2 linked regions of the Homo sapiens genome follow. The protein of the gene in region 2 purifies or fractionates together with the protein of the main gene of each other region. This does not show direct contact. Each region holds a gene or a part of one and is shown on either strand. Other genes may lie near its edges.

Evidence for each region.
Region 1: the proteins of IDI1 (region 2) and NSDHL purify together in Homo sapiens (affinity purification with mass spectrometry; one large-scale study listed by BioGRID and IntAct). This does not show direct contact.

Annotation. Positions count from the first base shown.
Region 1 is NC_000023.11:152,847,917-152,851,741, reverse strand, and holds part of NSDHL (sterol-4-alpha-carboxylate 3-dehydrogenase, decarboxylating), read right to left. Parts: intron 1,478-3,825; coding exon 1,319-1,477; intron 1-1,318. UniProt on the Homo sapiens protein: Catalyzes the NAD(P)(+)-dependent oxidative decarboxylation of the C4 methyl groups of 4-alpha-carboxysterols in post-squalene cholesterol biosynthesis. Also plays a role in the regulation of the endocytic trafficking of EGFR.
Region 2 is NC_000010.11:1,038,828-1,042,652, forward strand, and holds the end of IDI1 (isopentenyl-diphosphate Delta-isomerase 1), read right to left. Parts: coding exon 3,805-3,825; intron 2,678-3,804; coding exon 2,360-2,677; 3' UTR 592-2,359; downstream 1-591. UniProt on the Homo sapiens protein: Catalyzes the 1,3-allylic rearrangement of the homoallylic substrate isopentenyl (IPP) to its highly electrophilic allylic isomer, dimethylallyl diphosphate (DMAPP).

The sequences.
Region 1 (3,825 bases), on a different chromosome or scaffold from region 2:
CACCACAAGGAGGGAACGGTGTCGGGGTTTGTACAGTCTGAGGGTATCCTCTTCAAAGCTGGAGAGGCTTAGAGCAGCATGAGGGAGAACGGTTCGGAGGCAGCAATGATGAGCATGAAAGATGTCTACCCCATCTCCAGGCCTGGAGGTGTGGGCAGCACGGGAGAGAAAACAACCGTAACTTTGCAGCGGAAGCAATGGCCTTAATATTTCATCAACAAACCATATAGCGAATGACACCAAAGCCAAGAATAAGGGCCCAGTGACAGGCTGAGGGAAGCCATCCATAATAAGTACAACGGGCACAGGATTGGCATCCCAACTAGATCAACAAGGAAGCAAAGGTAACCCCAAAGACAAAGGGGCAAAGGACACAGACAAACATTTCACACAGGAGGAAGCCTGAAAGCCGATCACCCAGTGGCAGAGTGGCTGGTTACTTGGTCAGGGAGGACATGTGACTCTGAACATCAGTGAAGCACCACTTCATACTTCTCAGAATGGCAACACCAAAAAGTCTAGTTATGCCCAGTGTTGGCAAAGATGTGAAGCAATGGGGCTTGTGCCACATTGTGGATATGGAGGTAAAATTGACATAGCAGCTTTGCTGAGCCATTTGGCACCATCTAATAAAATTCAAGATATTCATACCTGTACAACATGGATGAAGCTTGAAAACATCATGCTAAGTGAAAAAAGTCAGGCACAGAGGTACAAATATTACATGATTCCATTTATATGAAATGTCCAGAAGAGGCCAATCCATAGATGGGAAGTAGATGAGTGGCGGCCAGGGGCTGGGAGGGGAAGAGAGGGGATGGCTACAAGATTTCATTTTGGGGTAATACAAATATTCTGGAGTTAGATCATGGGAGACAGTTGCACAGCTTTGTGGATGTACTGAAAATCACTGAATTGCACACTTTAAAAATGTGAAATTTGTGGTACATGAATTATATCTCAATTAAAAAATCAAGACCCTGTGGCCCAGCACACACTTGTTTTGCAGTTGGAACAATACAGCCCATGGACGGCTTTTGAAGTCAAGTTTCACTGGCATACAGCCACAGCCATTTGTTCATTTAAGTGCTGACCATGGCTGCTTTTGTGCTACCAGGACACAGCTGAGTATCTGTGACAGAGATGATGGTTATTCATTCTAAGCAGTAAGAATGTGGTGTTCTTTCCTATAACTTTGAAAATTTTCACAATGAAACAATTGTTTTTCAAACAAATTGGCTGGCTTCTGAGCAAGGGAAGTATCGTGGTTTCCCTTCGTGGGCTCGTGGGAAATCAGCAAGGCTGCATGGTCCATTACCTGTCGGCTGCAGAGGTCACCCAGAAAGAACCGCACCTGGGGATTATCAAACCCTTGCTGGATATCAAATACATTGACAGCATATCCTCTTGCCAGCAACTGCTCCACCATGTGCTGCCCCAGGAATCCAGAGCCACCGATCACTGTGCATCTCTTGGCCTGTGGAAAGAGAGGAACGGTGGGGAAGACCAGGGTAGTGAGGACTGGAAGCTACAGAGTCCAGACTTACATATCATGAGCCACTGCAATGGCAGATATACTTGTTTGTTTGGAACTCTTCTTGAGCCAAGTTGGAAGCTTTATATCATCCTGGTGTTCCATCACTAGTGCAACCCTAACCTTCTCTCCTGGGATCAGTAAGGAGGGAAGAGAGATAGCGAATGACACTGAGATTGACTTTGGTTGGGTTTGATGACAAGATCCATGCTTTGTATTCAGTGAAAGGAAATCAAACCACCTATGACCAAAACTGGACAATCTAAAAAATACCCCAAAAAACAGTGATACCTTCTTGTTCCCGATAGCTGATCCCTGGGCGCTTCTCTAAGGACAAAACAAAACAAAACAAAACGGCAGCCATTTGGTAGCTGATAGCTTGCACTGAAAACAACAGAAAGAAGAAAGCAGTCTCCATACTTGCAGGACAAAGTCAGTCCCTTTCCCTCTCTGGCCACAACAGGGCTGGGCTGTGTGGCTCTGGGCTCATCGCCCAACCCCTTCTTGCCTCAGCCTAGAAATCTAAGACCGCCTTGATGGGATCTCCTGGTGGGGCTGCAGTGAGGATGGATGAGCCCAGGGCTCTGCTTTCCCTCCTCCGAACTACAAGGAAGTTGAAGAAATGGGGAGAGCCATGGTGTTTATGTCTCAGCCTCCACAACACACACGATTCCTTGGGTAATTCCAACTCTGGTGACTGGGCATAATGAAAGGACACAGTAGCACATGCAGGCACTTAAATACCCTCATTTCAGGATGTTGATGCCAAACTGTGGCTGCTGCACACCAGACAAGCTGGCTATGGGTGTCTGTGAGGAGGACCTGTGATATCCCTCCTCCCTAGGGTCTTTCTAAAACTGTATCTGGGCCTCCTTAAGATGACAACCTCCAATTTCCTTAGCTCATATACAGTAAATCCAACTTGGGTTTGTGGAAATGAAAGATCTTAAAGAAATTATGTTCTAGATTTAAAAAACAAACAAATCTCCCTACTTATTCCTTAAACATCAACACAATTGAGCTATGCAAGAGACTCAAGGGATGCCAGGGCCAGACATCCTCTCTAGATCCACCTCCCTCCCAGTTGGGGTGTCCCATCTGAAACAGCACTCATACTGGATTCCACCAGGCCCAGCTGGAGCTGGCACTGTACTTTACCTTCATCTGTCCATGTGCAATCTACTAACAAAATCAGCCTCACCATTCTTCTACCACCCAAAACTAACTTCCCAACCTGTTCTTTTCTAGGCTTTATTCTGATTATTCCTAAACACATGTAATCATACCAGGTTACATGATTTGCACCTGGACTGAGATGTATATTTCCTCAAGTCATAGCCAAATTAAATACAAAACTCACATCAATCCCTTTTCTAGCAATCCCTTTCTTCTCCCCTCCTCCCAAGTCAGCTGTACAGGCAAACTGTAGCTATTTAGAATAACTCTGAGCTGCCTGTTTCCCAACCTGGATTTCTGCAGTTTACTAAAAGTCTGGCTAAGCCCAAAGACAGTCAGAACTAGATATGTTACTAAAGCATCCTGAAAGATTTCAGACTGCCTTGTTTATTTCATTTGGCATCTCTAGTTACAGGTGTTTCAAAAGGTTGCTAATCTCTTCAAAAAACAACCTTGCTGTTAGTCCAGTGTGATTTCATTTCACGATTTTAATTGTGACTAATCAGTACGCTACTCTTGGACAATGTGACGTGGATTATTTTATGATATTGAAATGTTCTATCAATAATGTTTGGGATGAGTAGGCCAATGGCTGTTCCCTGGAGACCCTTGTAGTGATGGGAATCAAACTGGCCTTTACCCCAGGGAAGTCAAATGTGTGATAATCATACCTATAATGCTGTGTGATTACAGGAGATCACATGAAACTTTTCATGACCACTTTTTACTTCTCACAGCCACAGTGGACAAGAATGAACATGTACTAACAATCAAGTATAAAACTCAAGACTGGAAACAGCAAGACTCCATAATGGGTTACTGAGGTGAGTTATAAGATCAACCTCTTGGAGACAGTGTTAAGAATAGGGGCCAGGCACGGTGGCTCATGCCTGTAATCCCAGCATTTTGGGAGGCCAAGGTGGGTAGATCACCTGAGGTCAGGGGTTCGAGACCAGCCTGGCCAACATGGTGAAATCCCGTCTCTACTAAAAATACAAAAAATTAGCCAGGTGTGGTGGTAGGCGCCTGTAGTCCCAGCTACTCAGGAGGCTGAGGAGGGAGAATTGCTTGAATCCGGGAGGCAGAGGTTGCAGTGACCTGAAATCACGCCACTG
Region 2 (3,825 bases):
AGCAGGTGGAGGGCAGTTCCCACAGGGACGCACTGCGGGTACGACCTGGACGTGTCCCCAGGGAGCAGGTGGAGGGCAGTTCCCACAGGGACGCACTGCGGGTACGACCTGGACTTGTCCCCATGGAGCAGGTGGAGGGCAGGTCCCACAGGGACGCACTGCGGGTACGACCTGGACTTGTCCCCAGGGAGCAGGTGGAGGGCAGTTCCCACAGGGACGCACTGCGGGTACGACCTGGACTTGTCCCCAGGGAGCAGGTGGAGGGCAGTTCCCACAGGGACGCACTGCGGGTACGACCTGGACTTGTCCCCAGGGAGCAGGTGGAGGGCAGTTCCCACAGGGACGCACTGCGGGTACGACCTGGACGTGTCCCCAGGGAGCAGGTGGAGGGCAGTTCCCACAGGGATGCACTGCGGGTACGACCTGGACTTGTCCCCAGGTGCCAGGGCCAAGTAAGAAGAAAATGTGCCTTCCTTCCTATTATACCATTTTCTGTTTTGGTCTTGTTCTCTTGATAATATAGGTAGGGAAACAGAATCAGCAATTATTAGAAGGCCACCTCTACTTTGTCCTTAAAGGAGTTGGCAATGGTTTGACCAGAATCAAAGAAGTATATATTTTGAAGATTAAGAGTTTAAAACAGTTTAAGAAAAAAAAAATTTATAGGTACCATTTAGCTTTCTAGTTGAAAACCAACACATCTGCCTTTGGGGTCAGAAGCAGCTATATCTAGGAGAGGGATACTCCTCTTTATAAAAGATGAAGGAGTTCTAAGGAGTTTATCAGGTCAAAAGACATTCCTTACATTTTCTGGATGGCATCCTAGTAATATTACAACAGTAGTATCTAACTCTTGCTAAGTACTTAACAAGGTGCTGGGTAGCAGTCTAAGGGTCCCATGTCCAATTCAGTAGCCATGGCAACTCATAGTTATCACATAACTAATTATATGTGGCTTTCAGCCTAAAACTTCCTAGAAAATAAAACTAAAAAAATTAGAAACAATATTATAAATGCAACGGAAACTATACAGGCAATATCCTATTAGTGTATCAAAATTTTAACAAACTAAACACAGTATTAAATTGCAATTTTTTTTACTTTTCAATAAAATACTTGCTAAACAGTCTTGTCTGAAATTATAAATTGCCCAAAGTTAACCATAAATGAGTCATTCTATTGAATTTAACAAACATTTAACTTTGCAAGAAATAAATTTTTATTTTTCTTCATTATCATACAGCATTTAAGAATAATAAATCTGTCTTGAGGTTTCAAATCTGAGATATCTATGGCAAGTTTATAAAAAGTACATTGATCAAGGTACAATTTTTAACATTAATATACACATTCCATAATCTCATCTATTTAACATTAACACAGGCCTTTGTTGTTGTTATTTTTTTCTCCCTACAATATTTCCTGACTCTGTAGGACAGTGGTCCTCAGTTGGGGGTTGACTCTGTCCCCTAGGGGCATCTGGCAACATCCGGCATAACTGTGGGTGTCACATGAGAGGGACGCTGCTCACCATCCTGCAATGCACAGCACAGACCCCACCACAGGGGTTTTATCCAGCCCAAATGTCAACAGTGTCAAGTTTAAGCAACTCTTACCGAGTGGGACTCAATTCCCATTTTATGAACACCTCTGTGCTCACTGTAATTCTGAAAACACAGACTTTGCTAACTGGTAAATACTATTTACAAGAAGATTCAACCTAATCAATATCACTTATCAAAAGCAGTGGCTGACTGTAAGTATCAACATGTTTCCAGAATGAATAAACCACACAATCAACTCAGAATGATACAAATTAGGGTCCATATCATTTAATTTCCCTTGAACCTGCTCTGCTAGTTTAATCTGCTAATATGAAAGTTAATTAAGACTGTTTTGAAGGAGCGAGACAATAGTTTCCTTTGCACATTTTTCTGAACTATGAGAAAAATTTAATGATACATAAAGCACCTGGCAAATAGCAAGTCCTCTGCAAGTGCTCCGGAAATGTTTATCACAGCCTACTAAAAACAGAGTTTCACTCATTTGTTCAAATTTCCCATAAGTATGTATCTGCAAAGATTAAATTAAGTTTTATTTGCTCGCTCTCATTTTACAATAATCTCTCACAAATGTCGCTTAGAAACAGAACACATATCCAGGGTGTGTGATACAAAATTATAAGTTAGTTTTTTCCACACAAGTTTTAAAGTATCAGTGTATATAATACATTAATGATAGTACCAAATGATAGAACTAAATTTAATGATAAATTAATGATAGAACTAAATTTAAAAGGAAAAAGTCATTCTAAGTTTGTTAAGCAGATAAATTTTTCTGTAATCATTTACCTACATATTCACATTCTGTATATTTTCTCATGGTCAACAAACTGATTCAAATGATTTAAGTTATCCCACCATTTAAAGAGAAAAGTCGCTGCAATAATTTTAAACCATGGCGTTATCTTAATTTCACCACTGGCTGCTTTTTTCAGAAGTTCTTTTAGTTCTTCCTTTGACACATAACAATAGCTTTTAATCTCATTGGGATCTGGATTCAAAGTTACATTCTTCCTCACCAACAAAATGTAATCAATTTCATGTTCACCCCAGATACCATCAGACTGAGCTTTGTAGTGAATTCGTGTTAAATAATTAATTTCTTCTGGAGGAACCTAAGACATTAAAAAAAAAAAAGTAATTAAAACATCGGCCACCGTAACAAAAAAAATCTAAAATTAGCTCACTGTATTACAGCGATATCTCGAACAGCAGTATAGTTTTAGGATTAGAACTTGGTTAAAGCATTAATCTCCTATCAATGGTATATGGAAATCTTAATATTATATATGGAAAAATGATTACATCATTAGTTTCAAGTGTTTGCGTTTTTTTCCCGATCAGATAAGTTTTTTTTTTTTTAATGTTAAAAAAAGGGGCAGTCACTCAAACTAGAAATGTGACATTCTTCTTTTTCTTCTTTTTTTTTTTTTTGTGAGACGGAGTCTTGCTGTCACCCAAGCTGGAGTGCAATGGTGTGATCTCAGCTCACTGCAACCTCCGCCTCCCAGGTTCAAGCGATTCTCCTGCCTCAGCCTCCTGAGTAGCTGGGATTACAGACGTGCCGCCCCACCATGCCCAGCTAGTTTTTGTATTTTTAGTAGAGACGGAGTTTCACCATGTTGGTCAGGCTGGTCTCGAACTCCTGACCTCGTGATCCACCTGCCTCAGCCTCCCAAAGTGCTGGGATTACAGGCGTGAGCCACCACGACCGGCCCGACATTTTTCTTTTTCATATTTTAAAATTGCTTTTTGGAAAATATAGATAAGAAATACTTTATTTATCCAGGTCTTATTTAAGGGGGACAATTCCAAGAAAAAAAATGATTTCAATTAAACCAATGAGATTTATGGTTCATATTCCTAAGAGTTTCCATCAGAAAATCTTCACCTTTTTTGTAGGTGGGGAGTTTTAGGTGAGAACTGGAAAACCTGTCAGTTAAATTCTACAAGAGCTGTAACACTTGAAAATACTCATCTTAGATTTGATCAATTATAGAAATATTCAACCTTATATAGTGCTTAACAGATCAATCCATCCCCGTATTGAGCTAAGTTTTGACAAGTGATATTAAGAAATTAAAATTTAAATAATCTTTATTCAAGATGGTTTGTGGGGCTAACTCATAACTCCGGAGGTTACCAAGCAGAGAACTACATTTGAATTTAAAAATTTTATTAAAAACCTTTTTATAGTATGTTTAGGTTTCAGCTTGTATGGTTGTGTAGGAGAGCTGGTTACCTCTTCCAAGGGAATTCCTAG